3 separate regions of the Homo sapiens genome follow, and regions 1 and 3 are each linked to region 2. The links come from fine-mapping of genetic effects on gene expression. A gene starts in region 2. Each other region holds a variant in brackets. All regions are shown on one strand. Distances are from middle to middle. Region 1 overlaps PTPRK (protein tyrosine phosphatase receptor type K). Region 2 holds the start of PTPRK-AS1 (PTPRK antisense RNA 1). Region 3 overlaps PTPRK (protein tyrosine phosphatase receptor type K).

Region 1 (8,191 bases), 49 kb after region 2:
ACTCAACCGAAAGAGATGTTTTTCATGTGTAATCAATATTAGCTGAGTCATATAGAAAAATATTGGTGTTTTAATTCATATTTCCATATAGAGAAAATTTTCTGTATTTCCTAACTTTGATGACAGAAAAGTGATACTAAAACTAGTACAAAATTTTCTTTTTCATTCTTTTGGTAGGAACAGTACATTTTTATTCATGATGCCATTTTAGAAGCCTGCTTATGTGGAGAAACTGCCATACCTGTCTGTGAATTTAAAGCTGCATATTTTGATATGATTAGAATAGACTCCCAGACTAACTCTTCACATCTCAAGGATGAATTTCAGGTATTAACTATTTCTAAAACCTCTTTTGTGACTTACTACAATTTGTTCTGGGCGCTAGGAATCCTTTCAAGGAAGGTCTTTCAAGTCAAATTTATAACCTTTGATCCTGTTTTAAATACAATACGTATCTCTTTCATTATACATATTATATAGTCACTTTTCTATTGATGAATTTATATCTACTATATCCAAAATGACAAATAAGTTCAGACTTAGGGAAGAGCAAAGGGGAAAGGTATCATAAAAGTCAAAAATTAGGCCAGGCGCAGTGGCTCATGCCTGCAATCCCAGCACTTTGGGAGGCCGAGGCGGGTGGATCACGAGGTCAGGAGATCGAGACCATCCTGGCTAACACGGTGAAACCCCGTCTCTACTAAAAAGACAAAAAAAATTAGCCAGGCATGGTGGCGGGTGCCTGTAGTCCCAGCTACTCGGGAGGCTGAGGCAGGAGAATGGCGTGAACCTGGCAGGCGGAGCTTGCAGTGAGCCGAGATTGCACCACTGCACTCCAGCATGGGCAACAGAGCGAGACTCCGTCTCAGAAAAAAAAAAGAAATAATAACAAGTCAAAATGAGTGGTGATTTGTGTGTATTTAGTGTGTATTTATAGCCTTTTTTTCATGCAGTCATACAGATTTTGACCTGGGTCACTCACAATGTGATGAGATCAAGCACATTAATTATAACTGAGTCTGGGTTCAGTGGCAGCTCACACCTATAATCCTAGCACTTTGGGATGCCAAGGCAGGCAGATCTTGAGGTCAGCAGTTCAAGACCAGCCTGGCCAACATGGCAAAACCTCATCTCTACAAAAAATATAAAAAATAGCCGGGTGTGGTGGTGCATGCCTGTAGTCCCAGCTACTCAGGAGGTTGAGATGGGAGGATTGCTTGACCCTGGAAGTTTGCTTAACCCTGGAAGGCTGTGGTGAGCCAAGATATTGCCACTGCACTCCAACCTGGGCAACAGAGTAAGACCCTGTCTCAAAAATAATAATAGTAATAATAATAATAAATGAAGTTTGTAGTACATGTTATTTCAAAATAGCCCTAAATGTTTTCACTGCCCTTAAAACACCCCTGAAGGTGGGTGAAAATAAAATCAAGGGCAGAGACCAAATTCTTTGATTGTTGATCCAGTGCTCTTTCCAACATGCCATAGCTTATCTTCAAATATGGCAAGCCCAGATGTTACTACAAATGATACCGTTTCCCAGTGTGATGAAGGGTCATTATCATAATGGACTGCCCGATTGCATTTTCTTTGGTTAAGGCAATGCATTTTGCAGGTAGCAGTGTTGTTTAGCGTACCTTTTCCTTTTAAGAAGAGGAGCCCTGAACAATGTGTGTCTTGTTTCTTTGTCACTTCTCAGGCTTCATTAGCTTTAACTACAAGGTCTATCAGCCTGTCATAGTAGCAAATGCCATTGCCTCGCACAAATCCTTCACTTTCTACTTGGCCTTCTAAATTCCTGATGGATCTGTGTTATACTGTTAAATGGGTCACACTGTCTTTTAACCTGGGTTCTCTTTTCTTTTTAGACTCTGAATTCAGTCACCCCTCGACTACAAGCTGAAGACTGCAGTATAGCGTGCCTGCCAAGGAACCATGACAAGAACCGTTTCATGGACATGCTGCCACCTGACAGATGTCTGCCTTTTTTAATTACAATTGATGGGGAGAGCAGTAACTACATCAATGCTGCTCTTATGGACGTAAGAGACTGCCCTCTTTGTTAGTGTAGAGTGTTGTGGAAAGCTACATAATGCAACTGAACACTGGCTAGTTTTCTTTTCGAGGAAATTAAAATAACCTAAAAAGGAAAAGTGGAAACTTTTATTGAAACACATTTTTTTGGAAAATGATTTTAGGTTTTCCCTATAGAGATTCTTAAGAACTGTCATTTTTATAGCTTTATTGTAGATTTGGAGCTTGATTGTCAATTATTATATTCATGTAGTAAATATTGCAAGTTATAAATTTCATCTTAATTATTTTCAGAAAAGAAAATCATGCCTTATCTATTTTGAATATAATTAGAAATGAATTTTTTAAATCACAGAATGCCAAATCCTACAAAAATCATGTTAATTTGGGAAATTTTTATTTCTGACATTTAATGTTTCAATAATTTACAATTAATTTGTTGGCCATTAATCAATAAGGACTATTATAAGTAACTAGAGAGGGGATGGATGGTATTATGTTAACACATCCATCATAATGAAAGAACAATCTTGCCCCATTCTAAAATCTTAAATTGCAGGGTGTTATATAGCCCATAGACAGAACAATATGGAAAGAAAGTTTTCTGTTTTAGTTTTTGGTTTTTTTTTTTTTAGACAGAGTCTCACTCTGTCGCCCAGGCTGGAGTGCAGTGGCATGATCTCAGCTCACTGCAACCTCCGCCTCCCAGGTTCAAGCAATTCTCCTGCCTCAGACTCTTGAGTAACTTGGAATACAGGAGCGTGCTCTACCACACCCCGCTTATTTTGTTTGTTTGTTGTTGTTTTTGTTTTTGAGACAGAGTTTCGCTCTTGTTGCCCAGGCTGGAGTGCAATGGCACAATCTCGGCTCACTGCAACCTCTGCTTCCCAGGTTCAAGCGATTCTCCTGCCTTTGCCTCCCAAGTAGCTGGGACTACAGGCATGCACCACCATGCACGGCTAATTTTTTGTATTTAGTAGAGATGGGGTTTCACCATGTTGGTCAGATTGGTATTGAACTCCTGACCTCAGGTGATCCACCTGCCTCGGCCCCCCAAAGTACTGGGATTACAGGCGTAAGCCACCGTGCCGGGCCTTTTTTGTATTTTTAGTAGAGATGAGATTTCACCACATTGGCCAGGCTGGTCTCAAACTCCTGACCTCATGATCCGCCCACCTTGGCCTCCCAAGGAAAGAAAGTTTTAAATTATGACTTTGGCCACTTTACTTTGATTATGTTGGAAAGAAGCAAGAAAGCTATCATGGTTTATAATCTTTTTAAACAGTTTACTGCCTTCATTTCTAGCTTTTGCCCTTTCTCCTATGAAACCATATCAAGGAGAAATTAGAAGCCACGGTTCATTTCTTTCTGACTATAACAGGCTTTCTAAGTTATTGTTCCTGTTAAGCCCACATTCTGTTTCTACGAGTAGTCTTCACCAGTTACTTTACTCTTTTTGGTGCTGCAAAGCGGAATAGTCTAAAGGCAGGCTCTCGTCCTTGCTGTGGTCACTCTTGCCTGTGAAAAGCTCTCATCCTTGCTGTGATCGGAGTCTTGCCTGGCCATTAATCACATCCACTGAAATCACATTAAATCCTAATTATACCTTTTCTTTTTATATTAGGTGTCTGGAAAGGCAAATATACTAAATAGAGAGATGGCATACAATACTTTTTCATTTCTGCATCTAAATATGGAATAAAAAAAGGATGTGTGAACAAGAAAAGGAGAAAATAATAATATTTAGAAAAGCATTGATGCCTTTGAATTTTTTGCCATTGGCATCTTTGTCAAATTTTTCTCAATGTCCAGATTGTCTCCTTTTCTTTTCTTTTTTCTTTTTCTTTTTGAGACAAGCTCTCACTCTGTAGCACAGGCTGGAGTGTCGTGCATGATCACAGATGACTGCAGCCTCAATCTCCTGGGCTCAAGTGGTCCTCCCACCTCAGCCTACCAAGTAGCTAGAACTAAGGTGTATGCCATCATGCCCAGCTAATTTTTTTTTTATTATTTTTTGTAAAGATGGGGTCTTGCTTTCTTGTCCAAGCTTGTCTTTTTTTCTGTATGAAAGTTGAAGCTTGTAATCCACCTGCTCTTACTGTCTGCTTAATCCCCTGTGATTCAAAAAAAAGACATTTCATAGTTAAAGCTGTTCTGGGGATTTAGTAGTGCAAATGAACCGTTGGAGAAGTAAAGCTGGTTTGATTTACAAGAACAGGGTTTATTGTTCACTTCTTTCTCCCTACCCTTTATCCCCATCATTAGTACCCTTTTGCCAGGTCTATGAGGGATTAGGAGCTAGGGCCAAGAATTCTGTAATTTCAAAGCCTTACATATGTTCCTGCATTTAGAGGGAAAAAGAATAGGAAGTCTTCAGTCTTCTCCTCTCTTATCAGCTCCTCCTCATGCATATCCCCTCCCCTGTGGCTCAAAAAATGAGTAGATAGCCGTCAGTCTGCTTTGACTTACCTTTGCATGGAGCAGACATTTGATTGGAAGAAGAGCTTCCTTTCTTCTAACTTTTCTCATTGTATTAGTTCATTCTCACACTGCTAATAAAAACATACCTGAGACTGGGTAATTTATAAAGGAAAGAGTTTTAATTGACTCACAGTTCCACAGGGCTGGGGAGGCCTCAGGATCCCTGCAATTATGGCCGAAGGGGAAGCAAACCCGTCCTTCTTCTCATGGTGGCAGGAAGGGGAAGGAGTGCCAAGCAAAGGGGGAAGCCCCTTATAAAACCACCAGATGTCATGAGAACTCACTCACTATCTGGAGAACAGCATGGGGGAAACTGCCTGCATGATTCAATTATCTCCACCTGGTCCTGCCCTTGACATGTGGGGATTATTACAATTCTAGGTGAGATTTGGGTGGGGACACAGAGCCAAACAATAT[G/T]ACTCATGAACCTTCCTGCCTTTCTTAGGAGACACTCATCCCAGCTGCACGTGTAACTTGGTAAGGTTTTGAGGTCATTTAGAAGTAGCCAGGTAAATTATTATTGTCATCTACTCAGATTTATCCTGCAGTCTTCAGCCAACGCTGAATGCCATGGTTGGTAGCATTTCCCAAATGGTGGTAGCATCAGTGAAGTCCAAGAACCAGTTCCTGTGCTGATGTTAAGATTCTTGAAGGACTTAAATAGTAGTATGATACAAATGAGTTACAAGATCATTGAAAATTTTTGTCAGCATTAGGGAACTCTATAATCTACTAATTATTATTATTATTATTGCAAATAATTAGTTTAAATCAAATGGCAATTGTCCAGTCCAGATAAATATTGTTTTTACTACTTCTCCCTTTGGAAAGAGATAATATATTGTGTTCTAATCAAGGAGGACTTGGTTAACAAGGAGCTATCTCCCCGCTTATGTGGGGACAGGAAATATATTGCTGTTATGCTTTGGTGCTTCAGGATCTTAAATGGTTGAGACTGTCATTATGACCTTTGATATATGTTAGAAATGCCCAGGAAGCTGTGGAAGGTGGATTGTCTGCAAGATGTGCAGAATATCCTGGTAGTGTCCACATAATGTAAAAGCACAAGTGTTTGAGCTACTTGTGGTTTTTCTTATTTGGAGTGGAGAAGAGTAAAACAATTTTACTTGCACGCACACACACTATACACATACCCAGATGATTGATAGACATACCAGGGGTTTTGTGCTTACTTTGCCTTCAGCCTCTCAGAGACTGATTACGTTTGGAAAATTGAAATAGCCCAACAGGAACCTTACAGAGGATGTTAACCTCAGAAGCTTTTTAGTTTCTTCTTTTGTATTTGTCCTGTATTTACGTCTTTCAGTAAAGTAAAAACTCAGTTATTGACTTGAATTGCTTTGGAAGCATTGAAGTCTTCCACCAAATTGATTCATTACTGTACTAATTCAGTTCATTCCAGTGGTCTGAATCTCCTATTCCATGGTTTAATCATCACTCTGGCTCCTTCTGCATATGAAGCTATTGCATCTTACTGGTCCTACATTGAAGTGTATTGTATCTGTTTGTACAACCGATCATACATTTTAAGTTTTTATATTTCTCCATCTACCTTGTTTCTTCACAGAGCTACAGGCAACCAGCTGCTTTCATCGTCACACAATACCCTCTGCCAAACACTGTAAAAGACTTCTGGAGATTAGTGTATGATTATGGCTGTACCTCCATTGTGATGTTAAACGAAGTCGACTTGTCCCAGGTTAATGGCTATGGATTGCTTTTATGTACTTATATACAACTTAATAGAGTAGTAATGAATTGCTAAAATCTGCTTTATACTCTCCTAACTAGAAAAAATAATACTCTTTTTTTTTTTCTTTCAAAACGTTCATCATTTAGGGCTGCCCTCAGTACTGGCCAGAGGAAGGGATGCTACGATATGGCCCCATCCAAGTGGAATGTATGTCTTGTTCAATGGACTGTGATGTGATCAACCGGATTTTTAGGATATGCAATCTAACAAGAGTAAGTCACTATCGGATCCTTTGAGCTGATCTAGAATAGGTCAGTCATAACCAAGATGTGGTATAATTTTATTCAGACAACAGGGAGACTACAATTAATAAGCACTATATCATCCACCTCAAAGCTAGTAACCATCTTATGCCTTAGTACTCGAATAAAAATACAGGAAAACAGAAATGCTGGAAGCTAGGTTTTTCGGTCAGTCACTAGACTAGCATATTCTCTCAGGAAATACAGATGCACTGGCTCAGTCAAGTTGGACAGCCTAGGCCTGGCCTCTGAGTGTATGTAGACTTATCTTAAGGATGACTGCATGTTTTATTAGTATTGACATCCAGCCCAGAAATGGCATGTGATAAAAAAAATAAGAACATTGCAATAACAATAATGACAGAGAAACTGTACTGCAGGAGGAAAGAGACATGTTGGATCAACCATTATAGAAGGGTTCCATGTCACTGTTCCAAGTTCATTATTGATTATCCTACCTGCAATTTCATCTTCCTAAACGTCTCAACCTATGGCTCTAAGCAGATCTAAAGGTAGAACCAGTGCTGCTACCACCATGCCTTTTCCCAGCAGCAAAGTAGTAACTGTATCGTCTTTCTCTGACTCCTCATTTGCTTTCCACTACATGACAAATTCAATGTGGGTGGGGAAGATCTTAAAAAAAAAAGTGCTAATAAAGCCCGGGCACAGTGCCTCATGCCTGTAATTCCAGCACTTTGGGAGGCCAAGGCGGGCAGATCATAAGGTCAGGAGTTCAAGACCAGCCTGGCAACGTGGTGAAACCCCATCTCTACTAAAAATACAAAAATTAGCTGGACATGGTGGTGGCATGCCTGTAGTCCCAGCTAGTGGGGAGGCTGAGGCAGCAGAATCATTTGAACCCGGGAGGCAGAAGTTGTAGTGAGCTGAGATCACGCCACTGCACCCCAGGCTGTATAGAGCGAGACTTCGTCCCCCAAAAAAAGATATTAATAAAAACAATTTAGATTATGTAACCAAATAACAAGCAGAATTGGAAAAGAAAACATTAGTAACTTTCATGAAATTAAGCTCTTTTTAGAGAGAAACATTACTCTGTTTTTTAAAGCACCAGCTCTGTGGGTATGTATTTTAAGTGTGTGATTAGGATTATCATGTTTCAGTGTCTCTCATATCAAAATGACTACGTGTGTGTCTGGTTAATAAGTCTATATGTATATAACTATGAGCAGGGAATGGAATCATATCGACTCCTATTGCTCATTTCAGTGGAGAAAAAAAGGATAACTTCAATCATCTCATAATATTCATGCATATCTTAGATGTTAATTTAAATGGAATCTCATTATGTCTGCACATCTGTTACATTATGGTTCTAGTAATATTTGAGTTGGAAAAAAACAGAACTGCTGAAGACAGTAAGGCTTGTCTGTTAATTGAGCAGTTTATGTGAAAAATATTCTAGGAACAGGAACTGAAATGTTATATTTTTGTCAGCATATTTATTTATTTGTTTGCTTACTTATTGAACTGCCTCTGTATTTGGTATTCTGGTCCTTATTAGTACATGATTTTTTTTCTGTTCTCACTCTCATCATTTAATATATTTAATATATTTAACTGCATCAAACATTTAACATGTACCAACAAGTTTGTAGAGTACTAAGTAGGGCTTGTAATCTACCAAAAGATGCATGGGCTC
Region 2 (8,191 bases):
AGCAGTGATTGGAAGGGAAGATTAAGTCAGGAGGCAGGGCTCAAAGGGCATCTGAAGGTGAGAGGCAGCAGCCCGAGGATGCCTCAGGAGTCTGCGTTGTACAAGAAGCTGGACATTAGAGATAGGTCGCAGGTCAAAATCAGATAGAATTTTGCGATCAGAGCAGACACAGCAAACCAGAAGCACTTGAACTGTTCAAATAGCACCTTCTTTCCACAGCAAGTCCTTGCTGTTGTGACTGCGAATACACTGGTCCACTGAAGCCTGTGACACTTGCAATTTGGGAGCTTATCACAGCCGGAGGACCCTGACACAGGGTGAGGGTGCAGGAAAGACAGGACATGAGATTGAGGATGCTGACTCAGACAGGTCACTGGACCGTTCCAGTGTTTTTCTTACAGGGAAAGAGTGTAGGAGGCAGTGCATCTCTTTGTCTTTGTCACTTAACTTTTGGTGTTCTTTAAACTGTTCTAAATTAGTTCAAGATCTACAAATTGAAGGCTAAAGAAGGGAGGATAAATAAAGCCCAGCCCAAGCAGTTTTGATTGTAGAAACATTTGGAAGTATTTGGGTTGTTAGGGGAAAGGAGCATAGCTGATTTTTTTTAAATTGATTTGGAGTTTGGTTATTTGTCATTTACTCATTAGTTACTTTCCTCCCCAACAATAACAACAAAAGATAATTACCATAGTCTGTTCTTACATGAAACACTGAGAAATTTTATGTAGACATTGAAATTACTTCATCAGTTTCTTCTGTGAATGATTCATTTCACATTTCCCAGTCTTATGTAAATTACTCTGCAGCATTTATATAGCATTAGTGTCATGCAATTTGTATCATTATTGAACATTTATTTTCTTTTCAAACAAAGTGCAAAGTGCCAGAGGATGGGAAGTATATCTTTAGCTGCAGTTTGAAAGAAAATGTACCAAGCTTGGTGTCGGATGACCTGGGTTCTACAAAGCAGTCGTGTACGTTTAGCCAAATCACCTGTTCAAATCTAGGTTGCCCAAACTATAAATGCACTTGAATGAGTGATTTTTCAAGAATGTGGGGCAAAATGAAGTCAGAGCATTCAAGGCTGTGGTATCTTATTTCTGTTTCAGCTACTGTGTCTGTGCTCTCAGTGTTTCATATATTGGGTCCCTACGTATGATTTTATTTTTTAAATTTCTACTGCTAATAAAAGTTTCACAGATGTGATAGTGTCCAGTATTTCTTTCAAATTTGAAGTTTCATTTGATTTAATCATTTTATCTATCATGTCATTTAGTGTAATTTTTGAACCTAGTAAGTGTCTAATAAATATTTGCTGGGGAAAAAAATGAATGCTATGGTTCAATCATGCAATACTCAGATGTTCGTAACCATTTCCATGTGAAAAGTTTAGTATAGGCTGTAGAGAATGACATTTTAGACTTTTGAGGGGAATTATTTTTATGTCAGCTTGAAATTCTTCTTGAACTTGATTTCTGACTTGGGGGAAAAAAAGCAAGCCTGATGTGCACAAGCTTTATACAGAGAATCAACTGTTTTTAAAAGAATAATCCAGCTGCTATCTGATCAGCCAGGTAGGAGTTGTTCTGTGGAAATGAAGAAGCCCTCCATTTTCAGTCAGAGTCACGCATATAAAGGCTTTGATAAGATTAAAATAATCCAAGAATGCAATTTCAAGATGCACAGCTAGAAACAGCAACTAAGAAATATCCATATCTTACAGGACACAGCTAAGGGAAGAGTCAGGTTTTAAGGACCGTCTACAGATAATGTCAGGATGTACAGATAAATATGAGCAACTGCTGATTGAGCTAGAAACACTGCTGGTTAAGTTATAAATCTTATGATTTTTACCCTTCAAAATGCCTCTTTCCTTGCTGCTTTATATTTTTTTAAAGAGCGGAGTATGTTGTCACTTGGAGGTTGTGCTGCTTTCCTGTGACTTTAGTCACCTTTGGTGCCCTGGCCAGATCCCTTTTACCAAGCCTGTAAAATGCCCAGTTTCCGTCAGTGTTAGCTGCTATTGGCTCACAGCCCCCACTTCTCTTCAGAATCACTTGTAGCTGAAAAACATTTACTTTGCCAAACCTTATGTGCCCATCTCCCAGCACTATCAGCTCATATCTGATGACTAACTGACATGGGGAATACAAAAAGCCAGTGCCCTCACTTCATTAGGTCAACTCTGGGGCAATTCATGCTCTAGTGCTCCCCGTGACATCAGGCTGAAGTTAGACTTATGCTAATACCACATTCTCACTTAGCTGCTTTCCCTTTCCTACCCTACTTTCCTCTCTCCTTTTCATCTGACAACACTCCCTTAATAAATCATGTGCATCCAAATCCTTGTCTTAGGCTCTGCTTCTAGGGAACCTAAGCAGTGATATTTTTGAGAGTATAGATTCTTTCTTCTTTTATCTTTCATCCTCAATCTCCAGCACATCTGGATCATGATGCTTTACAAGTATTTTGAAGAGTAAGCAAAGTAAGAAATTTGGCCTTCATTTGGTGTGTTAGTTAGTCCTTGCATTGCTATAAAGTAATATGTGAGGCTGGATTATTATTATTATTATTATTATTATTATTATTATTATTATTATTATTATTTTGAGATGGAATCTCACTCTGTCACCCAGGCTGGAGTGCATTGGCACTACAACCTCTGCTTCTTAGGTTCAAGTGATTTTTCTGCCTCGCCTCCCCAGTAGCTCGGATTACAGGTGCCCGCCACCCTGTCCAGCTAATTTTTGTATTTTTAGTAGTGATCGGGTTTCACCATGTTAGCCAAGCTGGTCTTGAACTCAAATGATCCACCTGCCTCAGCCTCCCAGAGTGCTGGGATTACAGGTGTGAGCCACTGCATGCAGTCAGAGACTGGGTAGTTTATAAAGAGAAGAGGTTTAAATGGTTCATGGTTCTGCAGGCTGTAGAGGAAGCGTAGTGCTGGCATCTGCTTCTGGTGAGGGCCTCAGGGAGCTTACAATCATGGCAGAAGGTGAAGGGGAACCATGTATCACTTGGCAAGAGAGGGAGACAGGAGAGGGAAGGTCCACACTCTTTAAACAACCAGATCTCACAAGAACACTCATTACTGTGAGGATGGCACCAAGGCATTCGTGAGAGAGCCAACCCCCAAAACCAAAAACCTCCCACCAAGTCCCATCTCCAGCATTGGGGAATACATCTCAGCATGAGATTTGGAGGGCACAAACACCCAAACTGTATCAGTTGATCAAGAACTGACCATGGAAGATGGATAGTTGAAGTCACAAGCAGTCCAGCACAATTCTAACCTTACCATGAATCTGAATTCTTAGCTCACTAAAGATTTAGGAACAGAATTGGGGAGTAGAATTATGGTCATGTAAAAATAGAGTCCGTTTAACATCCTAACCTTAAATCAGAAACCATCAAAGCATCATATCAACAAAAAAATTGTTTTCACTTATGAAAAATATGAATATTAACACAATTTTGTTGCACACTTACTCTCTGCCATATGTCTTACACTAGGCATTGAGAAAATACTAAAAATACATAGGATATGTTCCATGCTCTCAAGAAGTTGTGAATTGTGAAAGAACCTGATAGTTGAAGTAATAATTTCATGCAGTGTGCCTAAACATGAAATAGAATTCCATACAAAGTGACATTTAAATAGGTAGAAAAACCAGAGACCATATCCACACTGGTAACAGCATGGGCAGAGGTTTGCAGTTAGACATGAAAGTTAATGCAGTGTTCAAGAATATACTGAGGAGTTAGTAAGAAATTAGGCTAAAATGTATGTTGATACAGATATGAGAAAGGGCTGTAAGACTCAAGATTCACTTTATCTTGAGGGCAGGGTGGCAGCTATCAACAGTGCTAAAGCACTTTCTCTTCCACTTTAAAAATTAAAACAGTGTGGTAACCTTAAAAGGTGTTCTGAAACAATATTCTAAGCAACTGTTATCACTTTTGCTTTTTCCTTTTTTTTATCAGGTGCTTACTTAAACATTTCTCATAATTGCAAAGATTGTGACTTGTAATTATTTGTAGTTACTATTTTACCATGAGCTTTACCCACATTTTTATGTGTTTTAATTTTAAGTGGCTAAATATTATTATAAATAGTGTGTGCAGTATAATTTATATTCGTCATTTTCATTTTCCCTGAAATCTTTGTAGGCTATTAAGAAGAACAATGATAGGATCATATTTAAGTTTTAGAAAAATGACACCTTAAAAGCTGCAGGTAGATTAGGATGAGTAGGACTTGGAGTCAGAAACTTCAATAAGGGAGTGGCTGCAATATAGACTAGGAAAGAGGTGATACCAACCTGTCAGTGTCCTCATCGGTAAAAGAAGATACAGCTGGGCACAGTGGCTTATGCCTGTAATCCCAGCACTCTGGGAGGCCAAGGTGGGCGGATCACTTGAGGCCAGGAGTACGCACCAACTTGGCCAACAGAGTGAAACCCCGTCTCTACTAAAAACAAAAATTAGTCAGGCACAGTGGCACACGCCTGTAGTCCCAGCTACTCGGGTGGCTGAGGTAGGAGAATTGCTTGAACCCAGGAGAAGGTTGCAGTAACCTGAGATGGCTCCACTGCACTCCAGACTCGGTGACAGAGCAAGACTCTGTCTCAAAGGAAAAAAAAAACATACAACAAGCCTCATAAGTGCTTGTGAAAGCTAATTGAAATAATATATTAAAAGAGTTTGGCATTTAGAAAGCTCTGAAACGATCATTCATTTAACAGAGGAAGCTATGAACATTTTTTTTTTAAAGGTCAGTTTGACTTTTAGGCACCTGATTTCCTGAAGGACTCTTTGAACTCTTTGAATGTGGGTACTGTTTTATGCATTTTCATGTGATAACTAAACAGCCTGATTTACATTCTTGCCCAATATACGTATTTCTTCAAATAATGAACTAATGAATTCCCGGGCAATAAATACCTTTTGGTTAAATGGACAAACAGTTCTGTTCAGTGGGAAACATGCTAGTAGAGTCTGCTTTTAAAGGAATTGCTGTATGCAGTATTCTAAGAAATAATGAGGAAGTATTTTTACTTCAAAATACTTTGATCATAATATGATGATAGGTATTTTCTTCTCTTGCCTGTGAAAGTGTGTGTTAGGTATGTACATTATGGGGCCAAACTAGTGATTGTTGCTAATTAGGATATATGTGGCGCATTCTATCAAGAATCCCAGTTTTCTGGGCACTGTGAGCTGTAAGTCAAGTCATAAAAAGGAGTGAATTGTCTTTTTCATATATAGCACTGAAATTGACTGGAGTTAATTATTTAATGCCTACCTCCCCTACTAGACTACAGGCTGTGTCACACACCTCCCTCAGCATCTAGCACAGCAAATGGATTTAGTAATATTTATTGAATAGATTAAGAAATACAGAGTGAATAAAATAGGACACTGGTTGGAGTGTTGGGTCAACCACAATTTTGGTGTGATATATTCTACATATCACAGTGAGAAGGAAAATGATATAAAATGAATAATATCCTCCTTAAAGTACTATACAAAAAGAATACTTCTTATATTTTTTCAAGATGATGTAATCTTGTCAAATATATAATATGTTGCATGCCAGTGCTTTCTTAATCCTTAATAGTAATACCAGTAATTGTATATTAAGTTCCTGCTATGTGTCAAATACTTCTAGGTACTTTAAATGTATATTCAGTAATCTTCAGAACAAGCCTAGAGAGCAGAATTTAGTTATTTCATTGTAAAGATGAGAAAAGTGGGTCTCAAAAAAAGCAGATAACTTGTCCCAGATCACACAGTAGTTTTTCTTGGTACCTGGAGTGATTTTCATCCCTCTTTCAAATACAACCCTTTGGCTATTGGGAAGTAGCTATTACAACTGTATTTTTTCTTTAACTTGATGTAAGGGAAAGACCACTTTACACATATACAAATAGGAGAAAGTTTTGCCAGACCTTCTGCAGCTAGTATTTACATGAGTGAGTAGAGAATTGTAAGAGGTTCTGGTAGCAGTAAAAACAAATTACAAACAACGGAACATGAAGAGAAGATGTTGTCTACCAACATCTGTCAAATATGGCAGATGATCTTCTTTGTCTTATTTTGTTCAATACCACTCAATATCATCACTTAGGCCTCTCTCTCTTACTGTTTAGATCTCTTGGGATTCTCTTAATTTTTTAAAGCCTATACCTTGAAAAATTCTGTTTAAAAATACATTGGAAAGCATATAGATTTTAGTAGGCTGAATAATGGCTACTGGAAGATACCAGGTCCTAATCCCAATAAGCTGTAAATGTTATCTTTTAGGGAAAAGCGGTCTTTGCAAATGTGATTAAGTAAAGGATCTTGACAAGGTAGATTATACTGGATTAACAGTGTGGGCCCTAAATCCAGTTACATGTATTCTTATAAGAGCAAAGCAGAGGAAGATTTGACAGAGGAGAAGTCAATGTGACCACAGAGGTAGAGACTGGAGTCATGTAACCCCAAGTCAAGGAATGCCAGCAGCACTGGTAGCTGGAAAAGGCAAGGAATGAGTTCTCTTCTAGAGCCTCAGCAGCGAGGGTAACCCTACTGACACCTTGATTTTGGCCCAGTGATACTGCTTTGGGGCCCTCTAGTTCCCAGAACTGTAAGAGAATAAATATGTGTGGTTTTTAGCCATCAAGTGTGTGGCAGTTTTCTGCAGTGGCCTTGAGAAACTAATACAGACATAGAAAATTATTTTATGACTTTTTCTTTTAGATGCAGTTGTTAAGTCAGCATTTGATCTTATTTGAGCTAGATAGAACCAGGGTTTTCTAATCTACAAACTATTGATTTTCATCTTGATTTAAATGTGTTTACTTATTCTTCCTCTATAAGGTAGGACAATTTTGCAAAAGATGTATAAGAATGTGTGTCTCCTTTCAGGTTCAGCTGAAATAATCTTCATATAACAAAAGTTAGAGAAAACAATCTGTCTGAGCCAGAGACTTCGTTATATGAATTCATACAAACTAATGAAGGAATACAAAACTTGGCCTCACAGGGAGAGAGTGGAGTGTCTTATGCAAATCTTTGTTGTCAGCCACATTCCTACATGCAGAATGCAAAAACCATGTTTCAGTTTGTTGAGGATTTGGAAATAGCTTGAGATAATCTTAATTTAAAAGGACTGGCAAATTCTTTCAGCTTTGTAGAATTTATTCCACATATGTCAAAGACAAACTTGTTGTACTGCAAAATAAACTAGTACTGTGTGATCTTAGTTGAAAAGGTAAATATTACAATTTACATTCTATTCTCTCATATTCATTCTTTTGGTACATGTTAATAAATTGCAAAACTATATTGCTGAAAAATCTAATGATCCTGAAAAATCTAATGATAAATTCTAGCAATTATCAGTGATTACAATATAGGCCTGGTTTGTTGTTGTTGTTGTTTTTGTTTTTGAAAAGGAATCTTGCTCTGTTACTCAGGCTGGAGTGCAGTGCCACGATCTCGGCTCACTGCAACCTCTGCCTCCCAGGAGGTTGCAATTCTCCTGTCTCAGCCTCCCAGGTAGCTGGGATTATAGGTGCCTGCCACCATGCCCAGCTAATTTTTTGTATTTTTAGTAGAGATGGGGTTTCACCATGTTGGCCAGGCTGGTCTTGAACTCCTGACCTCAAGTGATCTGCCTGCCTCAGCCTCTCAAAGTGCTGGGATTACAGGCGTGAGCCACCATGCCTGGCCATAGGTCTCATTTTGTACACTAAGAAAATGTCAAATTACTAATTTTCATACTTAGTGCTAAATTTACATTTATCATAAATGTAAACATGTAATAGAGAACCAGTAATTTTTTATTTTCCTTAAAAATGATCCTGGTAAATAAGAGAATTGATTCATAAGATCATGGTTTGTTGATGCCATAGCAACATAATCTTATATTGAGAACATCATCTGTTACAATGCAAGTAGTTGTGGCCATGTGCCTAGAATAGACTTAGTTATTAAAGTACATTGTGATATGATAGAATAAGATTTGTCCAGATGTTTACAGAGCTCTTACAAGGAATTATTTTAGTCTGTTTCTAAATTATTTTAGTGTGTTCATCTGGGTTGAAATGTTATGTGCTTAAAGGATTGAGTTACTGTGATGACTTGGAATATTTAAGTAGCTTTGAATTGTGCGGGTATGTTAAATGCCTGTTTGGGAAAGAAA
Region 3 (8,191 bases), 39 kb before region 2:
TGCATGATACCTGTTAAATATATAATTGTTGAATGAAAATGAGTTAATGGATACAATGTCACAGGAAGAAAGGTAAATGAGAAAATTCTTACTCTTCAAATAATGCTCGGGATTTTTCAGGTGAAAAATGTACTTTCATGGAGAAAGAAAAAGAGTATCTTAGATATGTCCTAAGCAAAAATATCAACAGAAAAGGCAAAAGCAATGTATTCATTTCATAAACACTTAAACGTCCATTATCCTATTTGAAACCACATATTCCAGTGTGGTTTCAAATAGGATAATGGGCGTTTAAGTAAGTATAATATGTGAAAATGTAATGGCTATTGTATCAGCTTTTGGAGTTAAACATATTTGGGATTAAAAATATCTAGAAACTGGGGTGAATGTTATATCATGAAGACATTTCTCCTGGTATGAGTGGTGGTAGAGTGGGAGGGTTATAGAGTGCGGTGACCAGGTTATCTCCAACTAGCGTTCCATCTAATGTTACTCATTGCACAAAGAATGTTTTAGAAAGTATGCTTGGAAGCCAGTTCTCAGAAGTCTTTTTGTATTTATGTGTCTTAGTTTGCTCAGGCTGCTATTACAAAATACTAGGTGGCTTAAACAAGAAATATTTCTCACAGTTCTGGAGACTGGGAAGTCCAAGATCCAGGTGCTCTCGGATTTGGTTCTTGGTGAGGGCCCCTCTTCTAAACCTAATTATTTTCCAAAGGCCCCCTCTCCAAATACTATCACTTTGAGAATTAGGGTTTTAACATGAATTTTGGGGGAGGGGGCACAAATATTCAGTTGGTAACACTGTAGTATAAAGTAGAGAATGAACAAAGTGAGGTTCCTGGTTTAAGTTTTAAGGGGAGCTCTATTCTTCTGCCTCAGTTTCAATAGTAACAGAAATATAATACTTCATTTCTGTAATGACCATTCAAAGAATAAATGAATAATATTGGTAGAGAAAAGATATATAAGATTAAAGTGCATGGCACTGTAATTTATATTTGTATATAAATTATGTGGAAATCATTTTCTTAATTCTTTATGAAACAAGCATGTTACTTGTATTTTAGAACTTATAAAATTGAAATAATTTATCTTTCATTTTAATTGAGAGTAGGGCCAAATCTGAAAGTTCAACCCAAGGCATTGATTTTTATTTTCTATGGGACCATACTTAAGGCTCTTTCCCAAAGAGCCTATTGCACCTTTTCTTCCTTTACTCTTCTCCAACACTGGCAATTTACTTTGCTCCTCACAGATCTAGATAGACAAGCTGTCTTGCATGAAGTATCCTTAATTTGTAATGTAGAATCTCTGTCAATGTAATAGAATTAGTTAAGATTGAATGTTCACTAGATTTTGTGTTTTTTTTTCTAGAGGTATGGGATAATTAATGAAGAATCTATTTTTAAGGATTAGATTAATGATTAACAAGGATAGGTAATTATTATTATTCTTTAGGGCAAGAATATAAGGTTACATTTGTTTGGAGAGCATGTATGAGGGAGTTTATATGCATATGTGGATGTATCCACAGGACATGCAAATGTATAATATACAAATATGAATTATAAATTTAAAATAAAACATAGCATATGTCAGCTATGATCATTCTCGTCTTTCTCCAGGGCTATGCGTATGTATTTTCTATATCTTAAAATTGACAAATGCCTGCTCCATGGATGCCTCAGAGACCATGCATCTTGTCAGTAGCATTCTTAGAAGCTTAGCAACCAACTTGGCAGAGGTATAGGGAATGATGCAGCACATATAATTTGAAATAACATAGACTTCTGCCTTGCTTGCTCAAATCACAATTTCTAACATTAATACAAGTTCTGTTATCTTTTTAGAGGAAACAAGATGGATATGAACCTACTGATTTATTAGCAATATTTTAATGGAAAATGGGAGCTTAAATAACTAGGAAGAAAAGAAAATCTGTAATTTATCAATTAAATTATGATTTAACTCTTTCTTTTGATGTCCTTTTGTTTAATCTATGAAGATCTTTTATTTGTAGGCATAAGAGTTTATATTAAATTAGAATTTTATGCCAGAGTCTAAACTGTTTTAATTTTCATAGATGCATGTTCAGTGTATCTCTCTCTCTCCTCTCTCTCTCTGTCTCTCTTTCTCCCTCCCCCTCTCCTCCCCACTCCCCTCTACCTACCCACCTCTTTCTTTTTCATGGAAGTCTTTTAAAGAATGTATTCTGTTCCTCCTGGAGATCCATTGAATATCAATATGCAGCCCTGCATACAATTTATGTTCAACTTACCTAAGATACCACATATATTTTTCCAGAATTTTTAGGAATTTTAAAACATTTTAAAATATATTTATAATGTATAAAATATATTATAATAATAATGTCAACTTTCATGGTAATATTTTACCTGAAAAAATTTTAACGTAAAGAATTTTCTACTAAAAAAGAATATTGTTAATATACCAGCTTCAGAGTTGTTAAAAAATATTGTTAGATATCCGGGGGATCTTTATTTTAAATTTGCCTTGTTTTTCTTTTTGTTTTTTTCTCTCCTTTGTAAAGTAATTGCAATTATAGAAAAGTTTTAAGACTTAAAGATATCAGAAGGTTTAGGTTAGAGCTTTAATAGGCCAAATGCCATCTGTTTCTACAATTTGTAACATTTTATTATTAACAACTCCAGAAGAAGGAGGCGGTCTATTTCGGTTGTGAGGACAGATTTCTGTCCATCTGTGCCCGTATTGCCGCATGTCACTTGTATTTTAGATCTACATAGCTCTGAGCCAGTGTAGATGCCATGGCAAGGTCAAGAGGTGGAGAAGCCTGTCAGTACATTCTGTCTCTGAGGCTGTGACAACCACAAATGGGTGCTTCTAGCACCGCCCTGAGGCAGTCATTCTGTTAGACCTTGGAGCTGGACTTTCTGTAATATCATTTCAAGGGAAAATGTTAACTTTAAACATTTAAAAATATCAGACAAAGAACTGAATCTATGATGTGTCTTTGGTTAATGTCAGAATCCTTATTAGGGTGGCTCATTCCTCAACATTTAAAAATGTTGAAAGTCCTACGGTGATTGTTCTTCTTTTTATCAGTTTCTTTGTAACTACAGTGATGTTAGGGACAGCAGCATCTATATGGATTTTTCATTTTATTGCGAAATAGCTGAAAAGAGTATACCAGGTTAAGACTAACTTTAAATACTTTGAAATGTGGTGTGTTAATAGTCAACCCCTTAAAAAAAATCTTAGTATCTTAAATCTCTAAATATGTGTGTATATATATGTGTGTTCTTTTTTTCTTTTCCCCAAAGTGCTTATCAGATTGTTGTGGAAGAACTGCACCCACACCGAACCAAGAGAGAAGCCGGAGCCATGGAATGCTACCAGGTTCCTGTCACATACCAAAATGCCATGAGTGGGGGTGCACCGTATTACTTTGCTGCAGAACTCCCCCCGGGAAACCTACCTGAGCCTGCCCCGTTCACTGTGGGTGACAATCGGACCTACCAAGGCTTTTGGAACCCTCCTTTGGCTCCGCGCAAAGGATACAACATCTATTTCCAGGCGATGAGCAGTGTGGAGAAGGTGAGCTTCCTCCAGGATTTGCTTTTTCCCTGCTTTGAAGAAAAGCTGAAGTCAAATTTTATGAATACTCAGTAGCATCCGTCAAGAAAAAAAAAAAGAAAAAGAAAATTTGCATGTAGGGGGTTCTGTTCTCAACAGTGTGCGCAGTTTTGGGGCTACAGTAGGGCTGAGGCCGCACGCCAGTTCCATTTCACAGGGTTCCTGTTTCCTAGTAACTGCTTCTACTCGAGCCTTCCTCAGGAAAGCCCACAATAGCAATTGAGAGTAAAATGATTTGAAAACGTGGGTGTGCTGCTGCTGGGACTCCACCCTCAGTAACGATCAGGCATTGTTCTGTCTTCCTTGCTCAGTGGTGGCACACTTCAAGAGATTAAATTTACTGCAGGATAAACAGAATGCGTGTTCCACAGCAGGCTAATAAAACCTTATAAACTTTTCAGGGTTTTCAAGCCAAATAGTAAATAACATGTAACAATCCTCTGATTACAAAGTAATAGGGCGCCTGTGGTATATCTGACTGAACCTAAACAAAAGGCAGCCTGGCGATGACTGGCTGCTGAGCCATTACAGAAGGCTGCTCTCTGTTTCCCTGGTTGCCCCTCCTTTTCCCATTTTGGACACAGTTGTTTTTGAACACTGCTGCTGATCCCAAATGAATATTGAAGAGGAAAACACAACAGGACATTAGAAACGACCGGCAGTTCCGTATGTGGGAAAACAACCTGGCCTTTCATGCCTCATGCTGTTCTCTTTGGAAGATTTTCTTTCCTAAAACTTATTTTTATTTATTTATTTATTTATTTATTTATTTATTTATTGGCAGACAGAGATAGAGGGAAGACAAATGTTGAGGATAGAAATTTTCACAATTTAAAATCCAATAGAATGATGACATTTTAATAGACTTGAAGCCGTATAGGAAATTGCTGGGTTTATGTAATTGAGTCCCTAAGGTGAGCACCTGGGAGTGATACATGATATACAATTACATCAGTCATATTATATCTTAAAGAGTTTAATTGGAAGACATAACAATCCTTTTGCATTTCTGCAGGGGCCGTGAGAGCTTTGGGTATTGATTGGCTGCTTTTGAATCAAAGCTTTGTTGTTTGCTTGCCTGTATGCTTGGCTTGTAGGTAGCAAAGAAAAAGGCCACAGCATCTTCTAAGATGTGCTCCAGAGTCAGAGGCTGCTCATGGTTGAAGATGCTCTTCTCGTTTACCTTTAAAGAACTGAGGTCTTTAGAGAGTAGTCCAGTGTCCACTTTCTGCCTACATATCATTCCATACCACTGTTACAACTGGGCTACTATAAAAACAGAACAC[A/T]ATGGAAGTTATTAGTCCATTCTGGGTATAATATAGCATTGAGTAGGAAGCATAGTTTTGTGTGAGGGTTTTGATCTTTAGAGAGGTTCCAAATTAACTTTGGTTATTTGGTCTATTATACCAGAGGAGTGTTAATGAATGTCTGTTACTTATAAAGGATTTTCTCTGCATTCTTTAAAGCTTTTTGATATGAATTTTCTCTTCCAATTGTTAATATATCTGCACTGTGGTTTAATCAAAGTACAGAATAGCAACAATATATTTCACAGTTATCTTGGCAAAGAGTTTTAAAGTTGATGTGACTTCTACAAGTAGAGATTGGTAATGCCATTAGAAAGTTAAACAGCAATTGCTTTTAAGAAATGAAAATCCTTTGGGGCCTTTATGGGAATGTGAAATAATCTCTTGCAGGTTACCATGAAGGTCTCAGGCCACAAGTAATAGAAGTGCAACATTTTATTTTTAATTACTAATTCCCCCCTCACTGCTTTATTTTAATTTAAAAATAAAAAAATAAAAAATGCTTAAGTGGAAATTGTAAACTCTTTTATAAATTATCAACATATAGAACTACTCAAGATAGAGTTATAAATGCATCTTGCAAACAGATCGCCTCTGGTTTGTTCACTGGCTTTGATACCTTTTCTCACCTCTTGTGTATTCAGGGATGTACGCTGACTCAATTAAGTCCTAGAGGAGGAAGAGTGGGGCCAAAAGTAGCTGGCAGGGACATGTGTCTCCTACTGCCACCTGACAGCGTTAAAAATAATCATATTTTTTCTTGTCCTTTCCTACTGCTTCTACTTTGTATACCCGCTCTGTCTAGCAAGAGGAGGAAAATTATGTATGCTGAGAAACATTTAACTCCTAATAGCTAAATTAAAAGAAAGAAAGAACAGATAAATTACACCATAACTATGATGTAATGTTTTGATGATCTTTCTAACTGCTATCATTTAGCTTTTTAGTCATGCTAGGATCCAGATGAAAGTATGTAATGTTCAGCTTTGGTCTCAGTCTACAGTTCTCAGATGAAAATTAAATTTATATTTGGAACTGTTTTTATTAGCTTTGCAAGTACATTTTTCTGATAGTTTACGAAGCACTATACATGAAAATAGAATGCTATACTACTTGTCACAAACTAACCTGTTTCATTGCAAGGTAAAAACAAATATTTACATCTCTATAAAAACTAAAATATTTTTCAAAGTTCTTACTTTAGATTTTTAAGTATCCCTAGGGGGGCATATTTTTTAAAGTTTTCTTAATATTAAAATTCTGTTGTTTATAATCCCTTTTTATGACCCCAGATGGATCTTCATAATAATTATAGTTTATGAAACAGGAAACATTATCTGTACATTGACTCTTTTTTTTTTCATTTTTACTCTATCAGGAAACTAAAACCCAGTGCGTACGCATTGCTACAAAAGGTAAGAGGTTTGCTTTTTTTGCTTGTTTTAACTACTCTCACCCCCTTTCTAAAATGGAAGGACTTTGTTCCCTGCTTCAGGGCTAAATATGACATTTCTGTTATAGTTAGTTCTGTGACTCATGTGGGTGTCTTTAACAACTAATGGGGTGCTACTTCCCATCCTCTAGTACTTGACTGAAGGAATCTTGTTATGATAACAGGAAAGATCTAGAAAACCTTAGAAGGGCTTATTTCTGCCATTTAGTGTCTGAAAAATCTTGTGCTGCTGATCAACCAATATCTTAGGAAAGCGTCAGCAATAGCAGATGAAAATAGCAAGTTGCTTGTTTAAAAACCTCTATTACTTTCCATTGTAGACAATCAAACATAAAAAGAACCAAGCTAATTCATGTTTACATAAGATTATAGGGATAGAGATTAGTCCATATCTTCATCAGTAGTGCAGTTAGCTTGAAGATCATTTACTTTTTTTAAAACTTATTCTGAGAAACCAGATCTGTGATGGCTAGCTCATAACCAGGGCAATTCCTGCTGACCTGGCATATTATGGCTTAGCTGCCTAGTTTCTTTGACAAGAGAAAACATTTGCATCTTTGAATGAATATTTAGAGTTCCAAGTGGGGGAAAGTCTCCTACATTCTCTGTGTTTTTAATTCTTCATTTAAGAGTTACTTGATTGTGCCAACAAAGAATAAATTGCTACTTGGTGTATTCTAGCAAGAGAAACATGAAAAAGCTGTCTGCATGCAGACGTGGGCCTCCTCAAAGGGTTGGTTCTTGGGGTGGTTTGCTGCCGGAATTAGTAGCAGACCCACATTTGTGTCCAGTAGTTGATTCATTTGGGGTAAAAATCAATGGCCATATTCTGTTTGTACTGGCATCTTTCCTTTCATCAGTTTTCTCCATCTAATCATCAGTCTGCTCAATCAGCATTTGTGCTTTACTCCTGATTTGTAAGGCAATAAAGAAAGACTTTCTCTTTGACGCTTGTGAATAATAAAGAAGCTTTATGGAAGAGAAAAAAATATACTTTTTCAATTCACTTATGAAGATTCCTTTTGGTAGTTTTTATTTAAAAAAGCAATTCTTAAAGAGAAAATATACACAGATACATACGATGTATAAGGATTTTATTTTAAAAATTTAGCTTACTGATCAGGAACGAGAGTTGAAATTTTTAAAAGATAATAGAAGAAAGCATTTAGGTCTATATCACCTGTGTTTTTCCAGATTTAAAGTAGAACCAAAATTGTAAAAGTGTCCCACATTGACCTCTGAAGTTCTTTAGATATGTCATGCTATGTTTCTGTAACTGAGAAATGGTAGCTATATATTACCCTAACATAACTTTTTTATTCAGTTATTTCATTATTTGCTCTTGCCTGAGATGTTTGTGTCCTTTTATCGCTCTCTCGATACAAATTTAAAAAAATGACAAATATCACATGATATTTAAACTATAGGAGGATTGAGATCCTGGAAACAGTCTTACCATGTGGCATAGAATAATTGACAGAAACTTTGAAGTGGTAAAAAATAGTCCATTATTTGTCTAATAATCCAGCTCTGCTACACTTCTGGATCTCAGGAATGCAGTGTGGTGTGGTGTAGTGAGTAAGAGAAAGGACTCTGGCCTTACACTATCTGAGTTCAAATATTGACTGTGTCCCTTAGGAATTTTTTAGTATTGAGAAACTTATGTAAACCCTCATTCCAAAAATTAAATAATAGAGTACCTACACCTTCTTATTGTTGTGAGGATTAAAATAACATATATAGGCCAGACACGGTGGCTCCTGGCACTTTGCAACGCCAAAGTGGGAGGATAGCTTGAGGCCAAGAGTTTGAT

The links.
Region 1: its variant is fine-mapped to the expression of PTPRK-AS1 in whole blood (INTERVAL, PIP above 0.99).
Region 3: its variant is fine-mapped to the expression of PTPRK-AS1 in whole blood (TOPMed, PIP 0.93).

What each region holds. Positions count from the first base shown.
Region 1 is chr6:127,974,967-127,983,157 of GRCh38, reverse strand. PTPRK (protein tyrosine phosphatase receptor type K) reads left to right here. Exons shown (of 30, transcript NM_002844.4): 24 at 178-327; 25 at 1,869-2,042; 26 at 6,104-6,235; 27 at 6,376-6,501. Among named protein-coding and RNA genes, the nearest start is that of PTPRK-AS1, 49 kb to the left of the region's middle. The variant G/T (reference allele first, on the strand shown) is at 4,933.
Region 2 is chr6:128,024,055-128,032,245 of GRCh38, reverse strand. It overlaps PTPRK-AS1 (PTPRK antisense RNA 1), which reads right to left and starts at 4,381. Exons shown (of 5, transcript NR_125849.1): 1 at 4,323-4,381. The region is part of intron 13 of PTPRK (protein tyrosine phosphatase receptor type K); the gene reads left to right.
Region 3 is chr6:128,062,907-128,071,097 of GRCh38, reverse strand. It overlaps PTPRK (protein tyrosine phosphatase receptor type K), which reads left to right. Exons shown (of 30, transcript NM_002844.4): 12 at 3,306-3,579; 13 at 6,304-6,340. PTPRK-AS1 (PTPRK antisense RNA 1) reads right to left here. Exons shown (of 5, transcript NR_125849.1): 3 at 3,502-3,611. Among named protein-coding and RNA genes, the nearest start is that of PTPRK-AS1, 39 kb to the right of the region's middle. The variant A/T (reference allele first, on the strand shown) is at 4,905.